4 linked regions of the Homo sapiens genome follow. The protein of the gene in region 4 purifies or fractionates together with the protein of the main gene of each other region. This does not show direct contact. Each region holds a gene or a part of one and is shown on either strand. Other genes may lie near its edges.

The links.
Region 1: the proteins of MARVELD2 (region 4) and ACAD9 purify together in Homo sapiens (affinity purification with mass spectrometry; 2 studies listed by BioGRID and IntAct, with this or other methods). This does not show direct contact.
Region 2: the proteins of MARVELD2 (region 4) and CTBS purify together in Homo sapiens (affinity purification with mass spectrometry; 2 studies listed by BioGRID and IntAct, with this or other methods). This does not show direct contact.
Region 3: the proteins of MARVELD2 (region 4) and TTL purify together in Homo sapiens (affinity purification with mass spectrometry; 2 studies listed by BioGRID and IntAct, with this or other methods). This does not show direct contact.

Annotation. Positions count from the first base shown.
Region 1 is NC_000003.12:128,903,472-128,910,739, reverse strand, and holds part of ACAD9 (complex I assembly factor ACAD9, mitochondrial), read right to left. Parts: intron 6,679-7,268; coding exon 6,608-6,678; intron 6,355-6,607; coding exon 6,235-6,354; intron 4,620-6,234; coding exon 4,491-4,619; intron 2,556-4,490; coding exon 2,476-2,555; intron 1,768-2,475; coding exon 1,641-1,767; intron 1,397-1,640; coding exon 1,319-1,396; intron 868-1,318; exon of another isoform or gene 720-867; coding exon 591-719; exon of another isoform or gene 477-590; coding exon of another isoform or gene 407-476; intron 1-406. UniProt on the Homo sapiens protein: As part of the MCIA complex, primarily participates in the assembly of the mitochondrial complex I and therefore plays a role in oxidative phosphorylation.
Region 2 is NC_000001.11:84,550,441-84,557,708, forward strand, and holds part of CTBS (di-N-acetylchitobiase precursor), read right to left. Parts: intron 6,056-7,268; exon of another isoform or gene 5,540-6,055; coding exon of another isoform or gene 5,470-5,539; intron 4,760-5,469; coding exon 4,559-4,759; 3' UTR 2,685-4,558; coding exon of another isoform or gene 2,595-2,684; 3' UTR 91-2,594; coding exon of another isoform or gene 1-90. Other genes in the region: SPATA1 (spermatogenesis-associated protein 1), read left to right, coding at 1-90, 2,595-2,684. UniProt on the Homo sapiens protein: Involved in the degradation of asparagine-linked glycoproteins. Hydrolyze of N-acetyl-beta-D-glucosamine (1-4)N-acetylglucosamine chitobiose core from the reducing end of the bond, it requires prior cleavage by glycosylasparaginase.
Region 3 is NC_000002.12:112,477,570-112,485,221, reverse strand, and holds the start of TTL (tubulin--tyrosine ligase), read right to left. Parts: upstream 3,067-7,652; 5' UTR 2,878-3,066; coding exon 2,721-2,877; intron 1-2,720. UniProt on the Homo sapiens protein: Catalyzes the post-translational addition of a tyrosine to the C-terminal end of detyrosinated alpha-tubulin.
Region 4 is NC_000005.10:69,432,100-69,439,367, reverse strand, and holds part of MARVELD2 (MARVEL domain-containing protein 2), read right to left. Parts: intron 6,842-7,268; coding exon 6,693-6,841; intron 6,447-6,692; coding exon 6,275-6,446; intron 1-6,274. UniProt on the Homo sapiens protein: Plays a role in the formation of tricellular tight junctions and of epithelial barriers.

The sequences.
Region 1 (7,268 bases), on a different chromosome or scaffold from region 4:
TGCCAGAACCGAGGACAGAAAAGATATGCCCAAATTCCTGGAATCAGACCTCTGAGCTTCAAAAACCCAGCCTATCAGCCAAACTGGGTAGCATGGCAGGGGTCACAAGGCCTGGCACAGGAGTCACCCCGTCTTGGGTTCTAATTCCAGCCCTGATCCAACAGCCTTTCCCCAACAGCAAGTGACTCAACATCTCTGACCCTGTTTCCTCTGAAAGGCAGATGTCACAATCCTGGTATCTGCAGGTGCTCTGGAAAGTGCAGGCAGAGATCCTGGTATACAGTGGGTCCTCAGAGACTGCACCCGCCTCCCTCCAGCACAGCGGGCAATGTGCAGGGTCTGTCCCTTGCTGGGGGTAGGGGCACTGGGATCAGGAACCCCTGTCACTCACCCCCTCTTCTCTCAGTCAGGAAGAAGAAAGGGAACAGCCCCATCTCCTGAGCAGCACAGACCCTCCCACGGCCACCGCATGGTGAACCTGCACAGCCTCCCCCACACCCGACCACACCCTCCTCAACAATCAACTTCATTAAAGTGCAGCAGGACAGATGGCAGCAGCCAGGCCCTGTGTGAGGCTGGGCTGGGCTCACCTCGTGGTCGTGGTTGCGGAGCCCAATGCGGATGGAGCGGCTGGCCCGCGACAGCACGGCCGTCATGCCATACAGGTTGATGAGGATGTTGGCCACCCGCTTCAGTACCAGCTGCTCCTCCATGATGGTCTGGGATCACAGAGGCTCCAAGTGGGGACTCACTACCTAGACCAGTCCCCCACATGGTCCCTCCCTGGGCTGCATCTTTGCCTGTCTTAGTCTCCTGTGTTCCTTGAGAAAGTGGAGTCAATAACACCTTTCTCTTCAGGTTGTGGGAGAACGGCTCCCAGCCACCTTCTGTTTTCCCTTCTCTTTGAGCTCTAGATTCAGGGAGGGGTTAAGGCAAGACCAGGTCCCAGAAGCTTGGCTGAGACCAGAAGCCAGTGCTTACTGTGCTACTGCCACCTTCAGCAGCAAGGGCCCCACCAATCAGGTCCCTAGATTCAGGCCCCAGGTGGAGCTGCCCTCCCGATTCTAGGGAGCCTCTCTACCTGAAAGGTGCACAGAAAAACACTGCAGAAAACTCACCCAGCAAGGGTACCCATCCGAGTAGCTAAGTGGGCCCCAGGCTGACAAAGTCAGCCTGACCTCACCACCCCATCCCTCCAGGGTGATCAACATTTCTGTTCTAGGCCTGGTCCCAAAGGATGCTTGACAAAAAGTAGTCTCATGAATGCTGGCCAAATTGGAGGACCGCTTGCGACCCAGGCCTGGGAGGGCCTGGTTACCTTGCCAAAGCGGAGCAGCAGTGTCTCCACGGTCCGGCCGAAGCAGTAGGTGTTCTCCTCAAACTTGTTGGCACTGTCCTATTAACCAAGACAGGACTCAGTTCAGCACCTCATCCCTACAGTGCCCTGTCCTGTCTCACAGCCCGGGTACCAGGCAGAGATGCCCCATCTGGGGGAAGCAATCCAGGGTGTCATGGACTAGCTGGTGTTCCCCAACTTCCCCTGGAGAAGCCCAGACCCCCCACAGTGAGATCTTTTCTGCCACAAGGAGATCTGGCAGGAGGGCATTGAAATAGGGGGTATGCCTGTTAGGCCCACTCACCGCAAGACTGGGGTGCACAACTCCATGGTTGCCTGTCAGCCCCAGGTCCACAGTTCGGCCCAGGGAGTCCCGAAGCCTCCGGCCAACGGTATCCATGACTGTGCTCACTTTGGCCTGTTTAAGCTCACTGCAGAAAGTCCATGGTCCTGTGACTGGAGGCCTCGCTGCTGGCGCTCACTGTCCAGCAACATGGCCCATTCGGCACCCAGAAGCTCCGTGCCCCCCTCTGGCCTGGGTATGCTGGGCCCCTGGCTACAGCCTGAACCCCCCCAAACCCACCACCTGCCAGAGAGCAGCCAGTCTCCTCAGGGGAGCCACACATATGCTCCCCCATGAGGGGTGGAGTCACAGCCAGCTTCCCAGCAGCTGTCTCCTGTGAAGGAGACAAAATGCTACTAGCAACCTGTACTTGGCCTCCAGCAGTGATTTTGGATTACTGTGCCCCTAGGGTGGGGGTGGAGGGGAGCATGAGGGGAAGAAGGGCAGAGAAGAGAAACACTGGCTTATGTTGGCTGTGAGGCCTGGCACCTTTAAAGGGACACCTCTCATTCTTCAGGTTCTGAAAAACCAGCTGCCTCTAGTGTGAGGGACCAGATGGGGGATACGGTATTTATGCTGAAGCTGTAGGGTGCTGTGGCCATAAGGGCAGGGCAGCGAGGGCTTCCCTGGGCAGCAAGCCCCCCACTACCACAGGGGAAGGTCCCCTCCACAAGGCTGCGCCACACCCCCATGCCCCCACTCCAGGTCAAGGCAGCTCTTTCCTCCCACTGCCCTGGACTGGCCCCTGCTGGGCAGGTATGGGACCTGAGAAGCACACGGTGACAATGGCACCTACTGGATCCTGGTAGTCAGGATGCGGCCGGCATGCTGCAGACCCGTCAGGGCGATGTACATCCGGAGAATCTCATTGGTTCCCTGTGGTCAGTAGTGTAGAGGTCAAAGGCTGCCCCCCGGCCAGGCAGCCATGGTAGTGCCACGTGTGCTGGGTAGAGCCGGCCACTGCCTGCTTGCCCATTGCCACAAAAGCCACTGCTCCTGAAGTAGCTGGGAGCAGGGCTCTGGCCAGGGCTCAGGGAGTGCACAGGGATGAGGAGGGAGGTGACCAGATGGCCATGAGCTCCCACTGGGACCCCCCCACCTCTCCGTGACCAGCCTCACGTGTGTCAAGCCTTTCTCCAAGTCTCCAGGTCCTCTGTAAAATGGAAACCAGCTTTCCCCGGGTGGTGAGGGGTGCTGATGCCTGGGGCTCAGCCAGTGCCAGACAGACATTGCTGGCTCCAGGTGGAGGCCAGATTCCTCACGGAAGCCAGAAATTGCTGAGTGGCAGCTAGAACCTCCTCAGTGCCAGGTGTCAACACACCCAGAGGGCCACATGCTCCCCACTCCCCCAACCCATGATTCTGATCAGTGAGAGGCCAGTGGGCTTCTGCCCACTCTGCACAATGGTACTGTGTGTCAGGTGCAGGGGCCTGACCCAGGCTACACAGCCAGCACTAGGGACTGAGGACTGTCCCCTGCAGTCAGGCTGACATCACGGACAGCAGGACTCCCTACAGGAAAAGGGGGGACTGCAGGGGCCTCCTGGCAGGACCACCCAGCTCCGAGCAGGCTCCAGACAGGAGCTCTCACCCTACATCGAGAGCCCTGTGTTCTTCCAAGGCCTTGAGGGCTTCCTGAACCCTGCTGACCACCCCAGCCCTGGAGAACCCCAACCCTCCCAGGCTAAGGGAAGGGCCTTTGGAGAAGACCCTTTGCAGGGCTGAGACCACTCCAGTGCCCTCAGGCTGGCCCTTGCCCCGTATGTCCACTGCAACAGTGGAGATGGCTGGAACCCAATGGGTAGGCCAGGAACAAAAGCAGCCAAGGAGGCCTCCCACTGGGCAGGACGGCCCAGGAGACAAGACTACACTCCCAGAGGCTGATGATGCCTCTCATCACCAGACCTGCTGCTCAGGCCCAAACCCTCTCCCTGTCTCAGGCCTGCCTCCTGTATACCCATGCCCACCATCATATCCCACTCATCCTGCTGTGCTCTCTTAGGTCCAGCCCCTCCCTCCCAGCAGGAGAGCCCCTGGTCTCCGGCCTCATCCCTGCAACTCACTCTCCACATGAGCCCCGTCCACATGTCCAGCACTTGCTGAGCCCCTGGGGGCATTTCCCACAACACAGATACAACCAAATAATGCCCTGCTTAAAGACGTTTTGTGGCTTCCAAATTCCTCTGCTGTCAATCAAGGTCCTCCACAGTCTGGCTACTTTTTTAGCCTTCCCATATACCTTCTTCAACACCCCCAAACCCACTGCCTGCCCCAGCCCACCTAGCAGGGCTGACTGCTGCTCCCAGAAAGCCCTTCACTCTCTCTTCATTCACCTTGTGCCAGCAGATCAGTCCCATCTGGGCCTGGCGCGCTCTATTACCCTGCCCTTAGGGACAAACTGCCCTCCACCCGGCCCTGGTTGAAGCCCTTTCTTTCTGCCCCTAGGGGCCAGGAGCGCATGCTTCACAAAACTCTGGCTGCCTCTGGAGGATGCCCGCTCCCTGCCTCTTTACACTCTGTCATCTCCCTTGGTCGGCCCTGCTGCACAATCAGAACACAGCATCCGAAGTCATCTCTGTGGCCCCAGTTCCCTCCCCTGCCACCTGGCACATGCTAACTGAACTGACTCCTCAGGCTTGTGACTTCATGGAGGGCAGCAGTCGGGAAGGAGACGTGCCAGGGCTAGGAGAGCCCCTGAGAGCATGCGACCCAGCCCTGGGCTGCGGGGGCCTCTGCGAGGCCCTGAGCAGCATCTTTAGGACCAGGCAGGGTGGGGGTGGAGCACAGCTTAGCTGGTGGCGGGGCCACTCACCTCGAAGATGAGGAGGATGCGGGTGTCACGCAGTATGCGCTCGTACGGATAGTCCCTTGTGTAGCCCAAGCCCCCGAGGATCTGCAGCGCCTCACTCACACACTGCCAGGCGGCCTCGGAGCTGAACACCTGTGGGGTGTCACACTGAATCCTTTCCAAAAGGAGGACCTACGCTGCAGGGAGCTGGGTGGCTGGGGAGGCATGGGAGGCACACGGGCTTGGGGAGGAGATCGGCCAGGGAGGAACTTGAGGGGTGATGTGGTCAAGTCCTTTGCCTTCCGTGACCACACTGGCCAGCTTGTGTTCCCTACCCCACCATGACCTTCTGTACCTCTGGGCCTGCCTTCACCCTATCTGCACCTGGCTGAGCTCCTGTTCCTTTAAAACCCACCTAAGATCTCCCCTTCCCGAGAAAACCTGACCTGTTCCTGCCAAGCCCCAGCGGCCGTGATTTCTTTCTGTCTGTGCACACTATAAGTGCCTTGGGGGCAAACATACTGCCATGTTTAGCCCTAGGCTTAGCATCTGGAAGAGGCTGGCCTACAGCAAACTAATGTCTGTGGTCACTGTTCAAGGGTGACAAGAAAACGAGATGATAAAACACATGCAAATGCACCCAGTACACAGACTGCACCTAGAAAAGACTCAAACACGGTCCAAGATGCCCAGCCTTTTTGTTTTTAATTTTTTATTTTTTTAGGGACCTTGCCACTTCAGGATCCCAACCTTTTAGGTAGACTCTCCTGCCGACACCAGGATGTTTGCTTCTGTAAGCTGCCATACCTCTCACTATTTCTCTCAAGAGCTCAATTCCAGAGACCAGCTTAAAAACAATTGTGGGGGGCACAAAGTAGGGTCCCCCCAAGTGTGGCCATCTTTTTTATTACAGCTAAAAAATGACACCCTCCACCCTCAACAAAACAAAAGCAAATTCTAGTATCTACCTTAACCAAATAAGATGCTCTTCCCACCTCAGCCTCCCAGGTAGCAGGGACTATAGGCGTGTGCCACCATGCCAGCTAATTTTTGTATTTTTTGTAGAGATGGGGTTTCGCCATGTTGCCCAGGCTCATACATGTTTTTTGTTTTTTGTTTTTTTTTGAGATGGAGTTTTGCTCTTGTTGCCTAGGCTGGTGTGCAATGGCACAACCTCGGCTCACTGCAACCTCCGCCCCCACCGGGTTCAAGTGATTCTCTTGCCTCAGCTTCCCAAGTAGCTGGGGTTACAGGTGCCCGCCACTATGCCCGGCTAATTTTTTGTGTTTTTAGTAGAGATGGGGTTTTACCATGTTGGCCAGGCTGGTCTCGAACTCCAGACCTCAGGTGATCCATCCACCTCGGCCCCCCAAAGTGCTGGGATTACAGGTGTGAGCCACCGCGCCCTGCCATATGCTTAGTTTTTAAGATAAAGTTTTGATACCAGAAAGTAGGAAGGCCATAAACTAAGGAAAAAAGAAGTCTTTCTCACACAAGCCAGATGCAATGTTATTACTCTAAAAGGATATTATCATAACGGTCTCCTTCTGCTATAAACTACTGATCCACTGGCCCACTGGACACTTCCCTACTGCTGCTCCCCGCTGCCTGCCTATCCCTGGAGTGCTACACAGGGCAAGTGCATCATAAATACTGGATCAATGACAGGAGGAAGATGACAGGCAACAGCATGGGCTTGAAAGGTCACAGTGAGGGAGATTTCCCAAGCCTCCCTCCAGCGCCAGCTCTCTGGCTATGCCAGGGTTACCTTCACCATGGCTGCCTCGATGGAGCAGTCGGGAAAGCCAGGTTGGTCCAGCATCCCTGCTGTGAGGTAGGTCATACTCTCCATGACGTAAGCCTTCTGAGCCATCAGTGCAAATTTCTCCTGGAGTGTTCAGAAAAAACACAAGAAACAATTTGCATGTGCTGAGAGCCAAATCTGTGAAACAGGAGAGAAAGTAATTAAGTCAGAAGCCTCAATGCCCAAGAGAAGCAAGCCCAGTGACCCGTGTCAAATAAAGCCTTAACTAGTCTTCTTCCCAAATCACCACAGAAGTCACCAGTACAGAGACATCAAAAGAACACACCGTTCATGTCACACAGTGAAATGCACAAATACAGTACTCAACCATTGGTACCTGAATCAATCCAAATTCACTGAGCCTCTTGTTAAACTGTTTCCTTGTGCAGGCGTACTCAGCAGTCATTTCTGAGGAAGAGCAGAGTTATTAGAATGAACTGGAATATTTCTGTGGTTCAAACATGATTTCCTATGGCCATCATCCTTACCCTTCCCACAGGTGGGCACTGTGAGAAGCGTGTCTGCTGAGGTCAAATACCCCAGAAGCTGGCACCCCCACTTGCCAGCACCCGTGGGTCAGAGGAGAACCACCCCTCCTCATGGCACCCACACACAGAGTTTGGCATCAGATACAGACTTGAATCCTGGCAATGGTTCTTACAGGCTGTGCCTCAGGCCGAGTGCGACACCTCCCTGAACACCACCCCCACCTCAGAGTCGCTGTGAAGATGCAACCAGGTGGAAGGGGGAGGGCGCCTCGCACAAAGCCAGGCACAGAGGCCCCAGACAGAGGTGGTGCAGGCTCACACCCCGTGCAGTGACCAAAGCAGGTGGGGCCGCCTGGCTTGAATACTCAGGCTGGGGCTTCCAGGCGTGTGGCTGTGACAAAGTGCTGAGCTCTAAGGGCCCAAGAGTGACATGGCGCCTCTCCCAGGCAGAAGCACCCCCGCCCCGCCATAGCCATGTCCTCCACAGGCTCTCCCAGGTGTGGTGCACTC
Region 2 (7,268 bases), on a different chromosome or scaffold from region 4:
ATAATCCAGATCACTGAGGTACAGCATGCAATTGACCAGCTTAAGAGAAAACTAGATACTGACAAAATGAAACTCATAGTAGAAGTTAAGGTAATTTACATTTTTCCTAATCAGATTATTATAACATTTATCTTGAAATAAAATATTTTGGTGTTTTAACTTTGGGTGTCAATAATATAAGGGTAGCCAGGATTGACTGTATTAAAATTGTTACCTTAACAGTAAAGAGCATAGGTGAAAAAAAAAATGCAGGAAGAAAAACTAAACCTGTGAAAAGATACATGATATAATAAAGCCAAAGTAAAATTTAGTAAAATTTTACTAGGAAGAATTAAAGGAAAAGGAACCTGTGAGTCAATATATTCTCAAAAAAAATTTTAAGTAGTTTTCCTGTATTAGAATTATTAAGTCTGATAAACCACTGAGCTCTCCTCTGAACTGACATTTAATTTTTTATGGGTAATCGTTTCATTTTTTCTGGTTATTTTCATATGTATTCTATTATTTAAATATGAATAATGTGTCTTCTACTAGATGTTAAGTTTCCTTCCTGGCAGAGACTATGCCTTAGTTAACTTTGTTTCTCCCATGGGACCTTTTGTATAGCAGATGCTTAGTAGAGGCTTCTGGGCATGCTCTATTTGGTGAGAATTGTGTACAACTAATTACATCATAGAAATTATCTGTGAAGTACATATGTATTAAAAAGCTTTTTTGTTGAACAGAAAACAGAAGATTATACATTTTCATACAAGTACCCACAGCAAGGCAGGAAAATGAGAACGATAATTATATGAATGCTCTCATTTCTTTATCAGAAACAGCTTTATGACACAGAATAATGACTGCATTCTAGAATTAGCTCTTTTTAAAAAAATTTTAAAAAGAAAAAAGAAAATCAGTACTGTCCTCGGTTTCAGATAAAAATAAAAATAAATAAAATTTAAAAATAAAAAAATAGAATTAGCACTGTCCAACAGAACTTATGTGATGATAGAAATGTTCTATGCCTGCACTGTCAGATTGGTACCCACTAGCCACCTATTGATATTGAGCACTTGAAATGTAGTTTGTGTGACTGAGGAACTGAATTTTAAATTTTATTTAATTTTAGTTAATTTAAGTTTAGTAGTTACATATGGCAACTGGCTTCTACTATACTGGACAGTGCAGTTCTAGATTCTTTTTACAAGCAGCATTCTCGAGGCTAAATAAGCCCTGGTTTGGCACTGAGAAGCTTAAAACTTAAAATAGAAAAGGAAAAGAGCAGAGGATAATTTTTAACAAAATATCAGTTAAATATGCACTCAAAAAATAATTTGTTCAATGAAGGAAAACTGTCTATTCAATATATGGAGATAAAGCCAATATGTAAACTTGTACACTTAATAATTGGGTAGGTAGGAAGGAGTAATAAAAATGCCCCCAGAGGCTTGGATTATGACTCCCCTCATGCTGTTTTCTTCTGGAAAGCATGCACATTACTTGTAATCTTTGTATATTTTAACATTACAAATGTCACTCATGGTTTGAACTCAAATTAGAATTGTTCATACAAAAACAGTAAGGACAAGTGGAATAAGAGGAAAAAAAGAGAACAAAGTTTTCAGCTTATAGGCTGGGGGGAAAAAATCCTGTATTTAACCATAGTGCCTGATTGACACATAACAGACATTATTTAAGAAGTTTTATTGATTTCTGAATGATCTCCCCAAAACAGCACTACCTATAAGATTCAGAACTAAGGGACAAAAAAAACCCAGCCTGAGTCTCTTGCAACCATATTTATTCAAGATAGTATAGCATAAGTAGTGCTTCTCAAAGTTTAATATATCATCTGAGGATCCTGTTTAAAAATGCAGGATCTGACTCAGTAGGTCTGGGTGCAGCCTGAGATTCTTCCTACCTAACAAGCTCCCAACTGATGCTAATGCTGCTGTCCACAGACAACACTTGGAATAGTAAGGGCTCTGGTACCAGGTGGTTTGAATTTGAATCCTGGCTGTACCCACTTCACTTACTAGTTTTTTATCTTGAGCAAGTTACTTAGCCTCTAAAGGTCTCCATTTCAACTGTAAAATGGGGATAAATACTAGTATCTGATTCTGTAAAATTTTTGAAAAAAAAATAAGAGACTAATACACTTAGAAGAGTGCTTGCCACAGAGTAAACACTATATTTCTGAAATATCTATTCCGTTCCTAAGGGCTAGGAATTAAGGGTTTTTTTTGTATTTTGTTTTCTTGTTGTTTTCACTATTTTCTTTACACATTGAGAACAACAGGTTTTGAAGTTTAAGCAAAACATAAAATTCTTTCTCACTCTAGTTTTTAGAACAGTTCAATTGTATTGTCCCTATCTACTCATAAACAAGGTTACCTTATAGCATATCTCACCAGTAGATAAGCATGCTTATTAAACAGCATTCATAATCTACACATTTACTGTAGTAATCCAGTGGGAGTTGAAAGCACTGAAGCCAAATGAGAGAAGACAGTTAAAGCGGTTACAAAAACCCTGTTTACATGACAACTATGATGTACTTTTAGAAGGGTATGATGAAGTTCATTTTTGAAAAGTAATTCTTTTTATAGATGAGAAAACAAGCAGTTTCAGATTTACGAACATTGAAAACTGAACTGGCACAGAAAAAAAAAATAATACATCTCTACAATCTCAATTAGGTATGTTAATTTAAAACTTTTATTTGTAAAAAAATTTAAATATGTATTTGAACAGATTTGTTTAACCATTATTCTCCTTGGCAATGTTTTATAAAAAGCACAAGGTTTCTCTTTCTCCACTTTCCATGTGGGTATTACAAAATGTTTCAGGAAATATTAGATGTAATATAAAGCAAAATGATGAATGGTTATTTTTAACATTCCAAGTCCTTTACATATTATTTTACAGTGCTAATTTTATAATTTTCATTTTAATAATTTAATAATAAAATTCAATAATAATTTATTTAACAATTTAAGAGCTAATATAACTAAAATCTATTTGCAAAGAATAAATGTATATTAATGAATACTAATATATTTGCATGAAAATACAGACTTCATTTAACTTAATTTGTTCATTATATCTTAATTAAAAGAAATCTGGAAATATAAAAGAATGGGGGTATTGAAGTTGCATTCTGAGCTATGATAGAGATAAGCATCTAAGAATTTAAATTTTTTAATTCATTTATTTTAGAAATATGAAGACAACAGTGATCCAACATATACTATGAAAATGGTTTTTACTCTGTCACAAACAATTGTGTAAATAGGAAATGTAATATTCTCATAACAGATGGTTCAATCATCATGTATTCCAATTTACAGGGGCAAAATGTGCAGGGAAGCCAGGATTTATGTAAATCTAGAGTTCAAAGATACAGATTTTTAATCTGTAATTAGGAACTAATAAGGGCAGCACAATGTTGTTCTTAATTCCCTGGAGAAAGAAAACAGACTTTATTACATTTAGAAAACTTATTTGTATAAAATTGATCTTTTAGAAAGAGAACTAGTTGAGAAGCTAATCAGTGTCTTTAGATCATTAAAAGCACAATGCAGCTCATGCCTGTAATCCCAGCTCTTTAGGAAGCCAAGGCAGGAGGAGTGCTTGAGCCCAGGAGTTGGAGACCCATCTGGACAACATAGCGAGACCCTGTCTCTACAAAAAATAAAAATAAAAAAGATACATTGCAGATGTAGAAAGAAAAATTTAACCATGTAAGCAAGCTAGCCAAGAAATAAATTATATATGTCCATAAATGAAGAAATGAATAATTAGAAGTGTGACAGTGAACAGAATCAAGTTCAACTGCAAGTTATTCCTATTATTAAAAATTTTACAAATGAGCCTCATAAAAATAATGTAGTTGGAAAATATTAGGTAGTTCTAACTTACCAATTCAAAATATTACTGTTACATTCTTCTATTTTGTGAATACATTTAATCTTCTGGATTCTTTTTAATTCTCACTCACTGTCCAAAGATTTAGTTCAAGTACCTCAGAGAACATAAATACTATATGGAGTCAGGAAGCAGAAAAATTATTTTCATCAGTTTGATGAACCTAAAGGGGAGACACTACATTGTAGGTTTTAAATTTAAGATTTATTGGAGGGTTGGGGGAAAAGTATAGCACAAACTGCTTTTCAAAGACTAGGTTTTTAAAAACTCTAAGCAAACAATTTCCACTTCAGATTATACATATTTTAAAAATCAGCATTGATTCGTGAGCATATATTTTACTATAATGAAGGGAAATATGGCATAATAAAATTCTGAAAGCAATTTTTCCCAATTAAATTATAGTGTTGAAACATCTAATAGAGGAATATTTAATAGGTAAGTTGACTTGCTTCTTGCCTTTATGTTCCTGGATACTGAGGACATTCGTGTGTATTTTTCAAATTCAAACAATCAAAACATTTATTTATTCTTTTTTTTTAGTATACGGATAACAAAAGTATATAGCAACATAATAAAAATGCAAGAAACTAGATCTGTTGATACAGATCATCTTTCTAACTCTTAATGGTTTGACAAAAGATGTTCATCTCTGTAACAGCTTTGGCTTTAAGACTTCCCACATTTCTTCAGTTTGCTGTTTGGCTACAGCATCTCCAGAGTAGTCAAGACAGTTTGCATTCCACATGCCAATGCCCCGTAAGCGATAGTTTTGTATATATGTTGCCTTTAAAGAAATACTCTGAGGGTTATCATACCATACTTGATGAAAGTGGCCAGCAGGATCCTATATAAATAAATTAAAATGGAGATTTTAAAGTATTTAGTACAATTCAGCACCACAGGAAAGGGAAAAATAAAAGAAGTATACAGTACAGTAAGAGGGAAAAAAGTTTCCTAAATCCAATTATTCAAAAAGGATACAATGAAATAAAAATTTTAGGGCATAACACTTTCCTATTCTATAATTCCATGGTTCTATATTTGATACAAATGGTCCCTGACTTACAATGGTTCAACTTACAATTTTTAGACTTTACGATGGATTTATCAGGGTATTTCGTTCATTTTCAACTTATCATATGTTTATGGGTTTATTAGGACACAATACAATCATAAATCAAGGAACATCTGTACTTTCTAGGTATTATTGCTTATGGCACTTTTAACAATGGCAAAGATTACAGAAACGAGCCTCCTAATAGATTCTACTTGAGCTCCTTTTCATGTCCTAAGATTCTTTCCTTGCCCTTAGCCAGTGATTATTAGCCAAGGCGTACATCTGAATCACTTGCGGAGCTTTTAAAATACAGATTCCTGGGTCCCACACCACATGAAACCTATTGAATCAGAATTCTCCAGGGTTAATGCTAGGGCATATATTTGTTTTGTGTTTTAATGTTTCATTAGATAATGCTGGTATGCAACCAAAGTTAAGGGGAATCAATGCTCTGGTCCTCTAAAACCAGCTTATGTGCTTTTTTGTATTCTCTGTAGTTGCTAGAAGTGTGCCTGGCTAGGAGGTCTACAGAAGATTTTGTTTATGATGAATCAGCCAAGTCAAAAGGTAATGGCAATGGAGGAGAAAAGTACATCCTTTTCTAGGTCTTACAGATACATTCTCAGAGTCTGTTAGGTCTGCACTTTATTGGTGACTTAACATACACCTGATTATGAGCCATAAATTAGATTCTGGTCTTATGTTCACCTTCCACCCTAAAAAGTCCTTCTGCCCAGAATCAACTACCTCTATCTAGTACTAACACAGTCTCTCTCAGGCAGCACATGAGCTATTGGATAAGAGACAAAGGAAAAGGGAAAGGAGCAGATCTAGGACAAAGTGCAAAGGAAGGTGAAAAAGATAGGAGATAAAAAATAGAAAGACCTGTGACTAAAAATAATTTACTTATTTTTATATACATCTAGGAAACTCCTTAAAGGCATTTCTGAATTAATGCCAGTAATATTTACAGCAGCACTCCTGGAATTAGAATAGTCTCTTAAGATGACCACTTTGGGGCCGGGCACGGTGTCTCAGGCCTGTAATACCAGCACTTTGGGAGGCCGAGGCAGGCAGATCATGAGGTCGAGAGATCGAGACCATCCTAGCCAACATGGTGAAACCCCATCTTTACTAAAATACAAAAAAATTAGCTGGGCTTGGTGGTGCATGCCTGTAGTCCCAGCTACTCTCGAGGCTGAGGCAGGAGAATTGCTTGAACCCAGGAGACGGAGGTTGCAGTAAGCTGAGATCACGCCACTGCACTCCAGCCTGGAGACAGAGCAAGACTCCGTCTCAAAAAAAAAAAAAAAAAAGACCACTTTGAAGGAAAATAATTCACCTGGTAAATGAATACACTGCGGCATATTTAAATATGGTAGACTAATTGTAATCAAGCATATCTCAGTCTGTATCTTATATTCCATTCTTTAACATTTTTAGAACTAGACAAAGCCATGCATGCCCTAGTAATAGTTGTGATTCATTATTAAAAGGCAACTTGTAGAACTTGTACTTAAATATGACAGATTATTGAAGATTCAGGGGCAAACCCAAAGACATATACCTTTGAATTTTGCCATCATTCTAGCTAGTACTTTGAGCCTTTTTGATATTATTAAGAAATTCAAATGTCTCAAAATTGTAAAGGAACAAAGGGCAAAAACTAAGCACATGTAAGACTAATTTATGCATGGTTAAGGCATATTTGCTTTCCAGAATATTGAGTCCAAGATGAGCTGCTATTGCTGAAACAGCCCAATAGAGTGATTCTCTTCAAATAAGACAGAAACTTGATTCATGTTGCTACAGAATTTTGCAATTAATAAAAAAGAGGGGGCCAGGCGCGATGGCTTACGCCTGTAATCCCAGCATTTTGGGAGGCCAAGATGGGTGAATCACCTGAGGTCAGGAGTTCAAGACCAGCCTGGCCAACATGGTGAAACCCTGCCTCTACTACAAATACAAAAATTAGCTGGGTGTGGTGATGCATGCCTGTAATCCCAGCTACTCAGGACGCTGAGGCAGGAGAATTGCTTGAACCTGGGAGGCGGAGGGCGCAGTCAGCCGAGATCGTGCCACTGCACTCCAGCCTGGGCGAAAAGAACAAAACTCCATCTCAAAAAAAAAAAAAAAAAAAAGAAAAAAAAAAAAAGAAGGAGGCTGGGCGCGGTGGCTCACACCTATAATCCCAGCCCTTTGGGAGGCCGAGATGGGCAGATCATGAGGTCAGGAGATCGAGACCATCCTGGCTAACACAGTGAAACCCCGTCTCTATTAAAAAAATACAAAAAAA
Region 3 (7,652 bases), on a different chromosome or scaffold from region 4:
TCCCAGCACTCTGGGAGGCTGAGGTGGGTAAGTCACCTGAGATCAGGAGTTCAAGACCAGCTTGGCCAACATGGCAAAACCCCATCTCTACTAAAAACACAAAAACTAGCTGGGCGTGGTGGCGCACACCGGTAATTCTAGCTACTTGGGAGGCTGAGGCATGAGAATCACTTGAACCTGGGAGGCAGAGGTTGCAGTGAGCCAAGATCCCACCACTGCACTCCAGCCTGGGCGACAGAGCAAGACTTCATCTCAAAAATAAAATAAAATAAAAAATGTTTTGTTTCAAATCTTAATAAAACACACTGTATTTCCAGTAACAAAATCAAAGTAAGACCAAAGGAATTTTCAGTTGAAAATGCCAGAAGAAAGAATAATTTCTCTGAGAATGGCATACAGTCAAATCAAAAGTTTCAGGCAGGCATTAGCTGGCTCTCACTGGTCTCCCTGAGCAGACAGACCTGATTCCCACCTGAACTGCCTACATTCTTATCCACAGGGCACCTGCCTTCCTGAGCCTTTACCTAGCTCTATAAATCTTCTCCTTGGCTTTCATGTAGTACACTTTAAGCAAAAGGTAAATATCCCTTAACAGTGATGGCATATAACCAATTTTGTTGTAGGATGCTGTTTTCTTTCCCATAAAAACCAAATGTTGGCCGGGCACGGTGGTTCATGCCTGTAATCCCAGCACTTTGGGAGGACGAAGTGGGCGGATCACCTGAGGTCAGGAGTTCGAGACCAGCCTGACCAACACGGCAAAACCTTGTCTCTACCAAAAATACAAAAAATTAGCTGGGCATGGTGATGCGCGCCTGTAATCCCAGCTACTTGGGAGGCTGAGGCAGGAGAATTGCTTGAACCCAGGAGGGAGAGGTTGCAGTGAGCCAAAATTGCACCACTGCACTCCAGCCTGGGCGACAGAGTGAGACTCTGTCGCAAAACAAACAGACAAACAAAAAACAAAACTACAAAAAAAAAAAAAAACACATACAAACAAAAAGCTCAAACGTTTACTGATCATCTCCTGAATTTGTGGTATCTGTTCAGGATTCAAATTCTGGAGGCTTCTGCTTCTCACTCCTAGGCTTAAGCACCAGGGTAATGCCAGTCACTCCTACCTCTGCCTGGGCGGAGCCATGTTTGTTGTTTTTAATGTTATGATTCCACCTAAGCTTTCACAGCTAGGCACTGCCAAGAATATAGAGGGAAGTCAGGAAGTCTGGAAGGGGAAGTGGACAATGCAAGGAACAAATAATTGTTCTCAACTATAAGCAATTCTTCCTCTCCTTTCAGATCATGAATTCTCTTTGCTAGGGTCTTCCTGACACCGGTTAACCAAAGGGAGCCTCCAGGCACAGTCTCCATATTCTAAGATTTCTGGGTGTTCAAATGGGTCCTTCCATGGAGTCACCATTCTACATCATAAACTTGTATACCAATGAAAAGTTGTCCCAGGTACTATTCAAAAGAAGAAAATCCAGCAACTTTACACTGCAGCTCTTCATTCCTCCAACGATTTGAGTTTTACACAGCCCCCTCCCAAAGGCTCTGTCTATGGAAGCTCATAAATGACCAGTCAATTCCAAATGGCCCGTATTCAGTTTTTACCCATTTGAATTCTGACCACACCTATTTCTAAAAACTGTTTTCTCTCCTGGACATAGAACATTGCTCTCTCTGGGTTGCCCTCCAAGGTAGAGGTGACTCTTCCTCCGTATCGATTCTCCCCTTGTCTTTGGAATACAATTGGCCCCCACCTCTGGTGAATTCTGGCAAGGAACATGGCTCCCCGGAGAGAAGATGCAATTCCCAGATGACTGTGCAGAGAGGGAGGCCATGAGACTATGCTCAGGTCAATAGGATGTGAGTTGAACCGATCTGGGCAACTTCTGGATGACATCACTTACAAAGGAGCCGCTAGTCCCCTCCTATCTCCTGCGCTTTCCTACCCGTGGACATGTGGGTATGGTGGTGCCCAGCCAGCTTCAACCATGTGGATGAAGGTAATTCCCTCGGGGAGAGCAGGGAAGACAGGGAGGGCGAACGCAGCCTCGTGTAAGATCTTAATCCAATGCAGAACTGCGAAAACACATTATTTGGTGAAACTAAGGAAAGGTTTATAATCAGACATCCCTCCACACTTCCCTGGGCTAGGGTCTCTTCTGCAGCTCCTGCTTTTGGAATCCGGGGGTCTTTTCCAAATCCTCTGATCGCTCCTCCGCGCCTTCGGGGGGCAGAAGCCTCAGGGGTTTCAACACCTACGGCTCCCCCGCCCGCGCCCACGCCAAGCAGGGAGAAATCCTCAGTGCAGACGAGCTGCAAAAGATGACTCCAGCCGCCCGCTCTGCGGAGCCGCGCCCAGCGCGGCGGACCCGCCAAATCTGGGGGCTTCGGCCCGGGGGAGCCGCTAGACTCGCGCCTCAGGTCCCAGCCCCGGCGGCCAGCGTCTCCCGGGCTGCAGGGACCGGTCACCGTCGGGAGGTAGCTGCGGCCCCGAGTGGCCGCACCGCGACTCCGACTCTAAATCCAAGTTAGGAGACAAGAAAGCATTAAAAACGACAGGTTTCGATCTTTCCGAATCCGTTTCTGATGTGCCCGACAAGCGACAGAGGAGAAAATGTATGACCTTTAAAAACAAAAGCGCCGGTTCTAACGGGCCGCGGGAGGCGCGCAGGGCCGCTCCGAGGAGGGCAGACGGGAATCGGGGAGGGGCTCACCCAGTCTCCCGAAGGGCAGCCGATTCCTCTCTCCCAGCATCAGGTTGAATCTGGGGTTGTCTCGCCGCAGCCTCTTCCAGTGGCCGGTGGCGAGGAGCAGCCGGGAGACCTCGGCGTAGACGCTGCTGTTCTCATCGCGTACCACGAAGGTGTACATGGCGAAGCGCCGCGCGCCCGGGCCGCCGGGCAGCCGCCGCAGGGACCAGGCGGCCGAGAAGGCGGCTCAGCGCGGACCCCGCCCGGGCGCCCGCCGCGGCCCGGCCCCCGCCGCCCGCGCCGGCTACCGCGCCTCTCGGGTGCCGGCGGCGCCGCGCCCGGGCGCCCGCCGGGTGCCGGAGAGGAAAGCGCCGCTCGCACGCCCGCCCCCGCCGGCGCGGCCCCGCCTCTGTCCCGTGATTCCGCGCGGCCCGGCCCCGCCGCGCTCTGGAGGAGCCCGTGGGCGGCGGCGCCGCGCCCTTTCCGTACCCTCCCCCGGGGGCGGCGGCGGCGCAGGGTTGGAGACCCGCGGCGGTGGGCGCGGCTTTACCGCAGCGGGCGGACTGTGCGGTGGAACCGGAGCCCGGGCCTGGGGTGGTTCTTTCCGAGCCCCGGGTCGCAGCCGGGGGGCGGTGCCGGCGGAAGATCCCAGTTTGCAGGGCTCGATCTGGGTTTTTCTTCTATTGCCAAAGGACCTTTAATGGATAAAACCCAAAAGTTCTAAGGCCCGGTCCTGTGGCCTAATGAAGAAGCGCTTCCTCTTCCTCTTTGCTTAACGACTACGGAGACCCGGAGCGTCGGTTTTGTTTGTGTCGAGTGCTCCTTCCTTCGGCTGAGCCCAGGGTGGCGCACGGCCAAGGGGATGACCTTAGACTCTGCTGGTGGAAGCAGGTCCCAAACCGACCCCCTGGAGCCCTGGGCTCCGCTCTTTTCCTGCCTTTTACCGGCATTCAGCCACTTGCTTTCCCTTCTCCGGACCTCGATTTCCCCTTATGAGCGGCGGAGAGTGGCTCTTAAAAGTCCCTTCGGTTCTGATAGCCCACTCTGAAGACTGTGCTGCTGCATTTGAGATACAAAGAGAAGGCAATGATCATCAGAGCTCCCCCAAACTTCCTACAGTCCCTCATAAATTACCCACATCAGCCCTGCGCCTTGCATCTTTTACTCTCCTGTAGATAAAGAACACCCTGGGGCCTCTCCCCTTCCTGTCCCCCGATGCTCACGGTATCTACCCGAGCACATTGTAAAAGCGCCCTTCTCCTTCCCATCGTTGCCCAGATTCCACGGGGCCGCCAGGCGCTCACTCGCCTGTCTTGCGCACCGGCTCCACCTGCAGGCAACCGCTGGCTGTGGAGAGCCCGCTCAGAGCAGAAATGGGGCAGACTTAGAGGTGCTGGGTGCTTGCACTCCTTCCCAGCTGCTCTCCCTCCACGAGGGATAGAGTTGGTCGAGAATGCCCTGGCCCTCTCGCCCTCCGCACGTGCCCTGCGGGGAGGCGTGTGTCCTAGGCGTATTGCGGTGGTCCTCTGTAGGCCACGGCTGCGGTTGTCCACAGCTGCAACTTGCTCATCAGGGCATCTTCTGTTGGCTTCCTTCCTTTCCCTGACTACCGATGTTTCCTGGGATCACCTCCCAAAAAAACTACTGTACTCGTGCTCAAATTCTTGTTCCAGGGGGCACCGTTTGGGGGAACTCGAGCCAAGACGCTGTGTTTGCCGCTCTTCACGGCTGATCACCTTGAAAGTGACGTCCACTCCCACCATGCTGCATCAATTCCTCCTGCGACTCCTACTGACGACTCCTGTGCCACAGGTGGCTTCTCTCTGCCACTCCACAACCGTGGATCTCATTAGGAACACCAGTGACCTTTGAATTTCCAAATCCAGAAGCTACCTTTTTCCTTTTTCTCACTTTTTGTAGCGAGCACCATTTTTGTTTCTTTTAGCTGTAGGTTCTGTACGGTACTACTTATTCCCCACCCCACTTTTTTTTGAGACAGGGTCTCACCATATTGCCCAGGCTGGTCTCGAACTCCTCAACTCAAGCCATCCTCCCACCTCAGCCTCCCAAACTGTTGGGATTACAGGCGTGAGCCACCACACCCAGCTTATTCCCTTTTCTTTGTAAGGTAACTCATCTTTCCTCCTTGGAACGTGTGTGTGTGTGTGTGTGTGTGTGTGTGTGTGTGTCTGTTAGGGAGTCTTGCACTGTCGCCCAGGCTGGAGTGCAATGGCGTGATCTCAGCTCACGGCAACTTCCACCTCCGGGTTTCAAGAGATTCTCCTGCCTCACCCTCCTGAGTAGCTGGGACTACAGGCACAGGCCACTATGCCTGGCTACTTTTTATATTTTTGGTAGAGACAGGGTTTCACCATATTGGCCAGACTGATCTCCCAACTCCTGACCTCAAGTGATCTGCCCGCCTTGGTCTCCCAAAGTGCTGGGATTACAGGCATGAGCCGCAGCGCCTGACCCCCTTGGAACCCATTTTTTGTGGCTCTTGTGGGATTAACAGTGTCTGTTATTGATAAAGGAAATGAATATCCAGGCTTGGTCCAACAGGATTACTCTCTATCCCTTTTGCCACAGCGACTGGTAAAACGTAGGAAACTGGTCCAAATCAGACCAATCTGATGGAACACTATCTGTGTGGGACAGCTTGCCACTGTCTTGCTGTCTTATAGGGGGAGAATCTGTTCCGAAAATTCAGCTTTGCCTCCACCCTAGCATTAAGCCCCTAGCAGTAAGCATTAAATGTGGATATGTGAATATACTCTTGCCAGTAGAATGTGAGCAGGTGATATGTATCACTTCCTAGCTTAGACCTTAGAATTTGGATGTGCCCTCTTCTTCTGGAGACAGTACGTACAGTCAGCAGCAATATTGGAACAAAGAATGTAAGGAATTTGCCAAAACTGGCAGTACCCTGGATTATAAAGTAAACTCCAGCAATTTCAAAAGATTGAAATAATTCTGAACACTTTTCTGACAATAGTGGAATTAAGTTGCATGGAGATTAAGTGATATTGTACACTGCTAAATAACCCATGAATCCGTGAAGAAATCACAATATGAGAAAGTATTTTCTAACTGAATGAGAATAAAGATATGGCATAGCAAAACTGGTAGGATACAGCTAAAGCTGTTTTTAATAAAAAAATTACAGTCTAAAGTACATATGTGTTTTTTTTTGTTTTGTTTTGTTTTTGAGACGGAGTCTGGCTCTGTGGCCCAGGCTGGAGTGCAGTGGTGTGATCTCGGCTCACTGCAAGCTCTGCCTCCCGGGTTCACGCCATTCTCCTGCCTCAGCCTCCCGAGTAGCTGGGACTACAGGCGCCCGCCACTACGCCCGACTAATTTTTTGTATTCTTTTTTTTTTTTTTTTTTTTAGTAGAGACGGGGTTTCACCGTGTTAGCCACGATGGTCTCGATCTCCTGACCTCGTGATCCGCCCGCCTCGGCCTCCCAAAGTGCTGGGATTACAGGCGTGGGCCAAGTACGTATGTTTTTAAAAGAAGACTGAAAATCAATTAAGCTTCCATCTCATGAAACTAGAAAAAGAATAATAAGCAAAACCCAAAGTAAGTAAAAGGAAATAAATCCTAAGGGAAGAAATCAAGGAAGTAGAAAATAAATGTACAATAAAGAAATCAAAGGCAAAGGGGATATATTTTAAAAAATTTAAAATTGTTAAGCATTCAAGACCAACAAATGAAAGGAAGAACAATCAAAGTTAAAATGAAAAAGGTCAGATGCAAGAAGATTTAAAAATATTTTTAAACAAATTTTTTAATGAAAAAAGAAACATCACTAGAGATCCTGAAGGTATTAAAAACAATAAGATCCGGCCAGGCGCGGTGGCTCACGCCTGTCATCCCAGCACTTTGGGAGGCCGAGGCGGGTGGATCACCAGAGGTCGGGAGTTTGAGATCGGCTTGACCAACATGGAGAAACCCTGCCTCTACTAAAAATACAAAAAATCAGCTGGGCGTGGTGGCGCACGCCTGTAATCCCAGCTACTCGGGAGGCTGAGGCAGGAGACGGTCTTGAACCCGGGAGGCGGAGGTTGCCGTGAGCCAAGATCGCGCCACTGCACTCCAGCCTGAGCAACAAGAGCGAAACTCCGTCTCAAAAAAAGAAAGAAAGAAAGAAGATCCTATGATCAATTTTTGCAAATGAATTTGACGTGTGGACAAAATAGACTACTTCCTTGAAAAATCCAGTTTACCAAAAATGACACAGAAATACAAAATCTGAATAATTTCACACCTATTAAAGAGATTGATTCTATTCGCAGATAACATATATGTAGAAAATTCTACCAAAAAAACCCTTAAGGACTACCCACACATACATACCCACGAAATGTTAGAATTAATAAACAAATTAGAATTAATAGAATTAATAAACAAATTCAGCAAACTTTTGGAACAGCCCAAAATAATCCAAGAAAAAATTAAGAAAACAATTTCATTTATAGTACCATCAAATAACCCGTTTATTAAGGGAAAATTTGAAAAAAATAAAACTGTCACTTTTCCCATATGATATGGTTCTATACATAGTGGATCCTGAAGAACCTATACTAATTGAATGAATAACTGAACATTGTAAAGTCACTAGATACAAGGTATATATACAGATATAAATTGTATTTCTGTATGTCAACAACAAAGAAATAGAAAAAAAATTTTTAAAAGATACGATTTACAGTAGCATCAATATAAATGTGAAATAATTAGGAGTATCTAATGAAAGCTGTGCATTGCCTCTACACTGAAAATTACAAAGCATAATCGAGAGAAAATTTAAAAGCATAAAATAAATGAAAGGATGTACCATGTTCATGACTGAAAGACTCAAAATTGTTAAGGTGTCAAATTGATCTATAGATTCAATACAATCCCAAACAAAATCTCTGCAGAGCCATTCATGGAAATTGACAAGGTAATTCAA
Region 4 (7,268 bases):
CCAACATGGCGAAACCCCATCTCTACTAAAAATACAAAAATTAGCCAGGCATGGTGGCGGGCACCTGTAATCTCAGCTACTTAGGAGTTTGAGACAGTAGAATCACTTGAACCCAGGAGGCGGAGGTTGCAGTGAGCCAAGATCACGCCACTGCACTCCAGCCTGGGCAACAGAGACTCTGTCTCAAAAATAAATAAATAAATAAAAAACTAATAAAATAAAAGCTTGGCCTGAGAACTTTTTCTATCACTGACCCATATCCTTTTCCCAGTATATTTTCTTCTTCTTTTTTTTTTTTTTTTTTTGAGACAGGGTCTTGCTCTGTTGCCCAAGCTGGAAGGCAGTGGTGTAATAGCTCACTGTAACCAAAACTTCTTGGGCTCAAGTGATCCTCCTGTCTCAGCCTCCCAAGTAGCTGGGATTATACGGCACATCACCAGGCCTGGCTAATTTTTATTTATATTTATTTTTTTTTATTTTTGAGATGGAGTCTCAATTCTGTCACCCAGGCTGGAGTGCAGTGGTGCGATCTCGGCTCACTGCAACCTTCGCCTCCTAGGTTCAAGTGATTCTCCTGCCTCAGCCTCCCGAGTAGCTGGGATTACAGGCACCTGCCACTACGCCCAGCTAATTTTTTGTATTTTCAGTAGAGATGGGGTTTCACCATGTTGGCCTGGCTGGTCTCGAACTCCTGACCTTGTGATTCACCCACCTCGGCCTCCCAAAGTGCTGGGGTTACAGGTGTGAGCCACCATGACCGGCCGCTAACTTTTACTTTTTTGTGTGTAGATGCAGTCTTGCTATGTTGCCCAAGCTCATCTTGAACTCCTGGCTTTGAGCACTCTTCCTGCCTTGTCTCTCAAAGTGTGGGGATTACAGCCATGAGCCCCCTTGCCTGAACTATTTTAATTCTTCAATCTCTTTTACATACTGAGATCATGAGTATGTTTGTGTTTTGAATGCTTGCCAGCAGTGAAGATAAACCTGGTGATTTAATTGTAATCTGTAATAACAGATCCTGGACAAGGAATAAACTTGCTATTGGGGTTAGCACTGCTGTGCTGGAGATGCAGGCAGAGATGAGCTGTAACATCCATCTAGAGTCTGTCACTGAATTTAAGGAGTGGTGAGGACCAGAGGGATTGTTTGGGGCAATATTTCTACTTTATGGGCTCAGAAAAGTCATGTGACTATTTTTCAGTGGTGCACAACCATGTCTGTGGGAGAACCTGCCTCCAAACAGGCCCACTGGGCTTTGAAATGCCTCACATGCTTCCATGGGGACATGGTGGGAAAACGAATGAGCCTGTGGACTCCTGCCCAGGACAAAGCTCAGCCTGTGGCCAAGGAGAAGCTAACTTTTGTAATATGGTTAATATTTCTACTTTAGATAAGGACTGGAGGATACACTGATAATAATAACCGTGGGCCTGCCATTGGGTTACTTACAAGCCCTGTCTTGTTAAAAATCACAGGTAATGGCTGTTGTTGATATTGTGTGGAAACATCATGGGAAGACTTGGTCTCTCAACCTGTACTGTCATCAGGACCCTCTTGATTTCCCAACTGCAGACCATGTGCTGCAGCCCTTGTCCATTCATACAAAGCACACAAACCAGATACCACTGGGTGTTGGCTCAAAGATTACAGGTCAAGGTCAAGATTTTCTTTGTTTTTTTTTTTTGAGACAGAGTCTCACTCTGTCACCCAGGCTGGAGTGCAATGGCACAATCTCGTCTCACTGCAACCTCCGCCTCCCAGGTTCAAGCCATTCTCCTGCCTCAGCCTCCCGAGTAGCAAGGATTACAGGCGCCCACCACCATGCTCGGCTAATTTTTTGTATTTTTAGTAGGGACGGGGTTTCACTATGCTGGCCAGGCTGGTCTCGATCTCCTGACCTCATGATCCGCCTGCCTCGGCCTCCCAAAGTGCTGGGATTACAGGTGTGAGCCACCGCACCCAGCTTTTTTTTTTTTTTTTTTTTTTAAGACAGAGTTTCGCTCTTGTTGCCCAGGCTGGAGTGCAATGGCGCGATCTTGGCACACCAGAGCCTCCGCCTCCTGGGTCAAGCGATTCTCCTGCCTCAGACTTCCCGAGTAGCTGGGATTACACACATGCACCACCACGTGCGGCTAATTTTGTATTTTTAGTTGGGATGGTTTCTTTTTTTTTTTTTTTTGAGATGAAGTCTTGCTCTGTCGCCCAGGCTGGAGTGTAGTGGCACGATCTCAGCTCACTGCAACCTCCGACTCCCGGGTTCAAGCAATTCTCTTGTCTCTGCCTCCTGAGTAGCTGGAATTACAGGCACACACCACCATGCCTGGCTAATTTTTGTATTTTTAGTAGAGACGCGGTTTCACCTTGGCCTCCCAAAGTGCTGGGATTACAGGCATGAGCCACTGTGCCTGGCCGAGATGGGGTTTCTCCATGTTGGTCAGGCTGGTCTGGAACTCCCAACCTCAGGTGATCTGCCCGCCTCAGCCTCCCAAACTGCTAGGATTACAGGTGTGAGCCACCACACCCGGCCTTACAGGTCAGGATTTTCTTCATTATTTCTCCCAACAAGCCTGCATTTCCCAGCCTGTGCTGATCCAGATTCCTGGGGCCTCATGCCTTCCTGCACTCCTTTGACGGCCTCTGAGAGACTAGGTCACCCTTCTTAGACCTGTGGGCCTTGCTTATTTTCCAAATGGTACTGACATTCAACCTCAATATTTGCTGAATTTCTCTTGCTTCCTGGTACTGGCGTCTCTTAGCCAACACCATTCCATTGCTCCAGGATTAGGAAAATGTTACTGTAATACACATTTGGCTTAGTTAACTCATAACGATAAGTGATTTAAATGCACACTTAACAAAGAGTCTGTGATTGAAACAAAGACACCTAACTTCTCAGGTAAAAAATTTATATATATGTGTGTGTGTGTGTGTGTGTGTGTGTGTGTGTGTGTGTGTGTGTGTGTGTTCCCATACATAAATTTGACATTTAGTTTTTTTTGTTTGTTTTTTGGTTTTTTTTGGCTCTGTCGCCCAGGCTGGAGTGCAGTGGCATGATCTTGGCTCACTGCAACCTCCGCCTCCCGGGTTCACACGACTTGCCTGCCTCAGCCTCCCAAGTAGCTGGGACTGCAGGCATGTGCCACCACAGCCAGACCGACATTTAGTTTTTACAAAGCTGTGTTTTTAAAATTTAATCATACATGTAATAGATTAATACAGCCTCTTTTAAAAAGACAGAATATTACACAAATATTTATACCAGCATTATTCGTAACAGCCAATGAGTGGAAATGACTATATAGACATTTGGAAATGACCAAATGTCTATCTCTTGATAAATGGATAAACAAAATGTGGTATATCCATATAGCAGAATATTATTCCACCACAAAAAGGAATATGTATTGACTTATGCTAAAATATGGATGAACCTTGAAAACATTATGCAAAATGAAGAAGCCAGACACAAAAGATTGATATGAAATGTTCAAACTAGGCAAATCCATTCGGACAGAAAGTAGATTAGTGGTTGTCAATGGTTGGACAGAGCTGAGAATGGGAAATAACTGCTAATTCGTAAAGGGTTTCATTTTTTTTTTTTTTTTTTTTTTTTTTGAGACAGGGTCTCACTCTGTTGCCCAGGCTGGAGTGCAGTGGCGCAATCTTGGCCCACTGCAACCTCCACCTCCTGGGTTCAAGTGATTCTCCTGCCTCAGCCTCCCAAGTAGCTGAGATTACTCAGCCTGCCAACATGCCCAACTAATTTTTGTACTTTTAGTAGAGACAGCATTTCACCATGTTGGCCAGGCTGGTCTCGAATTCCTGACCTCAAGTGATCTGCCTGCCTCAGCATCCCAAACTGCTGAGATTACAGGCATGAGCCACCACACCCAGCCAATATAGGGTTTCTTTTTGGGGTGATAAAACTGTTGTGGAATTTGAGTGGTGCTGATTGCAAAACTCTGTAACTATACTAAAATTCACTGAATTGTACACTTTAAAAGGGTGGGTTTATTATATGTGAATGAGATCTCAATTAAAAAGAGTACATCTGGGCCGGATGCAGTGGCTCATGCCTGTAATACCAGCACTTTGGGAGGCTGAGGTAGGTGGATCACCTGAGGTCAGGAGTTCGAGACCAGCCTGGCCTAAATGGGGAAACCCTGCCTCTACTAAAAATACAAAAATTAGCCGGGTGTGCACCTATAGTCCCATCTACTCAGGAAGCTGAGGCAGGAGAATCGCGTAACCTGGGAGGCAAAGGTTGCAGTGAGCCGAGATTGCACCACTGCACTCCCGTCTGGGTGACAGAGCAAGACTCCATCTCAAAAAAAAAAAAAAAAAAGAGTACATCTGATTAAAAAATGGCACAGGTGGCCAGGCACGGTGGCTCACGCCTGTAATCCCAGCACTTTGGGAGGCTAAGGCGGGTGGATCATAAGGTCAGGAGTTTGAGACCAGCCTAACCACCATGGTGAAACCCCGTCTCTACTAAAAATACAAAATTAGCTGGGCATGGTGGCGCATGCCTGAATCCCAGCTACTTGGGAGGCCGAGGTGGGAGAATCGCTTCAACCCGGGAGGCAGAGGTTGCAGTGAGCCGAGATCGCGCCATGGCACTCCAGCCTGGGCAACAAGAGCAAAACTCCATCTCAAAAAAATAAAATAAAATAAAAATTAAAAAATGGCACAGGTTATAAGGCATTCCTATTTCAATATTCCTATTTCAAAATGTGAAAAATGTGGGGGGTGCGGAAGAGCACTACGAAAAAGCTTAAGCCTCTGTAACTACCATATCTACTCCTGGTTTTCCTCTTTGTCATAATCACAGCTACCTGTCTGATGTGTGTGTCCAGCAGCTCACATTTGTAGCATATCTCATATCTGCTTGCTTTTTTTTTTTTTTTTGGAGACATGGTCTCACTCTGTCCTTCAGGCTGGAGTGTAGTGACAAAATCACAGCTCACTGCAAACTCCACCTCCTGGGTTCAGGCAATCCTTGCACCTCAGCCTCCTGCTGGGTCTACAGGTGCATGCCACCATGCCCGGCTAATTTTTATATTTTTTGTAGAGACAGGGTTTCACCATGTTGTCCAGGCTGGTCTTGCATGCCTGGGCTCAAGCGATCTGCCCACCTTGGCCTCTTAAAGTGTTGGGATTACAGGCATAAGCCACTGCGCCTGGCCATTTCTGCTCTCTACTCTTACTCAGTGGGCGCTCTGCCTTTGGGCCTGGGGTGCTAACTGCTGGGCTCTGGCTTAGCAGGGGAATGCAATGCCCCTGGTGGCTTCCCTACATTCCCTTTCTGAATAAACCTTTGTGAATTATCCTAGTTTGAATGTGCTATCTGTCTCCTTTGGGACCCTGACTGACTCAGTATCTATCTTAGGCAAATTCGTATTTTACTTAAGTAAGAAAATAAAATATGGGTAAGCACAGAGTGAAAAAAAAAAAAGAAGAAATACTGTTTAATAATTGAAGACAAAAGATATTAAGTTACATAATTTGAATTGTCATCTTGACTAGACACCTTGAGGATCTCAAATGCTTTCCTAGACACAGAAAGCAGATGTAAATGGTTATAAATTTTTTTAAAAGCCAGATTTTGGGGGCCAGGCGTGGTGGCTCCCACCTGAATCCCAGCACTTTGGGAGGCCGAGGCAGGTGGATCCCGAGGTCAGGAGATCAAGATCATCCTGGCTAACACGGTGAAACCCCATCTCTACTAAAAATACAAAAAAATTAGCTGGGCGTGGTGGCAGGCGCCTTAGTCCCAGCTACTCGGGAGGCTGAGGCAGGAGAATGGCATGAACTCGGGAGGTGGAGCTTGCAGTGAGCCAAGATCACGCCACTGCACTCCAGCCTGGGTGACAGAGTGAGATTCTAGCCTTAAAAAAAAAAAAAAGCCAGATTTTATGCCAAATGCGGTGGCTCATGACTGTAATCCCAGCACTCTGGGAGGCCAAGGCAGGTGGATCACTTGAGGCCACTCTTGGCCAACATGGCAAAACCGCGTCTCCACTAAAAATAGAAAAAAATTAGCTACGTGTGGTGGCATGTGCCTGTAATCCCAGCTACTCGGGAGGCTGAGGCAGGAGAATTGCTTGAACCCAGGAGGTGGAGGTTGCAGCAAGCCAAGATTGTGCCACTGCACTCCAGCCTGGCAACAGAACAAGACTCTGTCTCACAGAAAAAAAAAAAAAAAAAAAAAAAAGCCAGATTTTATTCATCCTCTAGATTTCAGTGCTCCTCCTAGGCAGCTGCACATACTAACCTGTCGGCTTTCCGAATGATGTGGCAATCTGCTCATCACTGCATCCAGCTCATCAAACTTCCTCAGGACAGCCTGAACTTCTGCAGACAGCTCTTTGTACTCTGAAAACTGGTCTTGGAACACAGCTTTATAGCGTTCTCGCTCATCATCTGTCTGAATCACAGGGTATTTTCTAGGGGAAAAACATAAGCCAAAGATATAATTGTTTCACTAAAAGAAGCTGAATGGGAAATCAGCTTATCTTATTCCTTACTGATCATATTGTACCTTCAATTCAATACATTACCTCTCAGATAACAACTATTTACATACACGATTTTAAGCACAGAGTATTAACTTGGAGACAAACTGGAAAATGAAAGGACCAAATGGGGCCCCTCAACTTCTACCTTGAGGAAGAATTCAGACTGACACTCACGCCACATAGTCGGGCATCACGATAGGTTTAGGAATGTGGCCTGGGGGGATGTGTCCACTCAGTAGTTCAGGTTTCATTTTTGCTGTTCTCAGTTCCTTGAAATTAACTTCTGAGTCTCTTTGTCTGTCACCACTGGTGGCCATTTCACACTGCAGTTAGGGAGAAAAAGAGGATTTGTTAATAAACATAAGTAGAAAAAAACCCTCTGAATTCATTCTTAGAAAATGAGGAAGAAGATCAGGTGGGGTGGCTCAAACCTGTAATCCTAGCACTTTGGGAGGACAAAGCCGGAGGATCACATGAGGCCAGGAGTTCAAGACCAGCCTGGCCAACATGGCAAGACCCTGTCTCTATAAAAAGTTTAAGGCCAGGCACAGTGGCTCACGCCTGTAATCCCAGCACTTTGGGAAACCGAGGTGGGCTGACCACTTGAGATCAGGAGTTTGAAACCAGCCTGGCCAACATGGTAAAACCCCATCTCTATTAAAAATACAAAAATTAGCTGGGAGTGGTGGCGGGTGCCTATAATCCCAGCTCCTCGGGAGGCTGAGGCAGGAGAATCACTTGGGCCCAGGA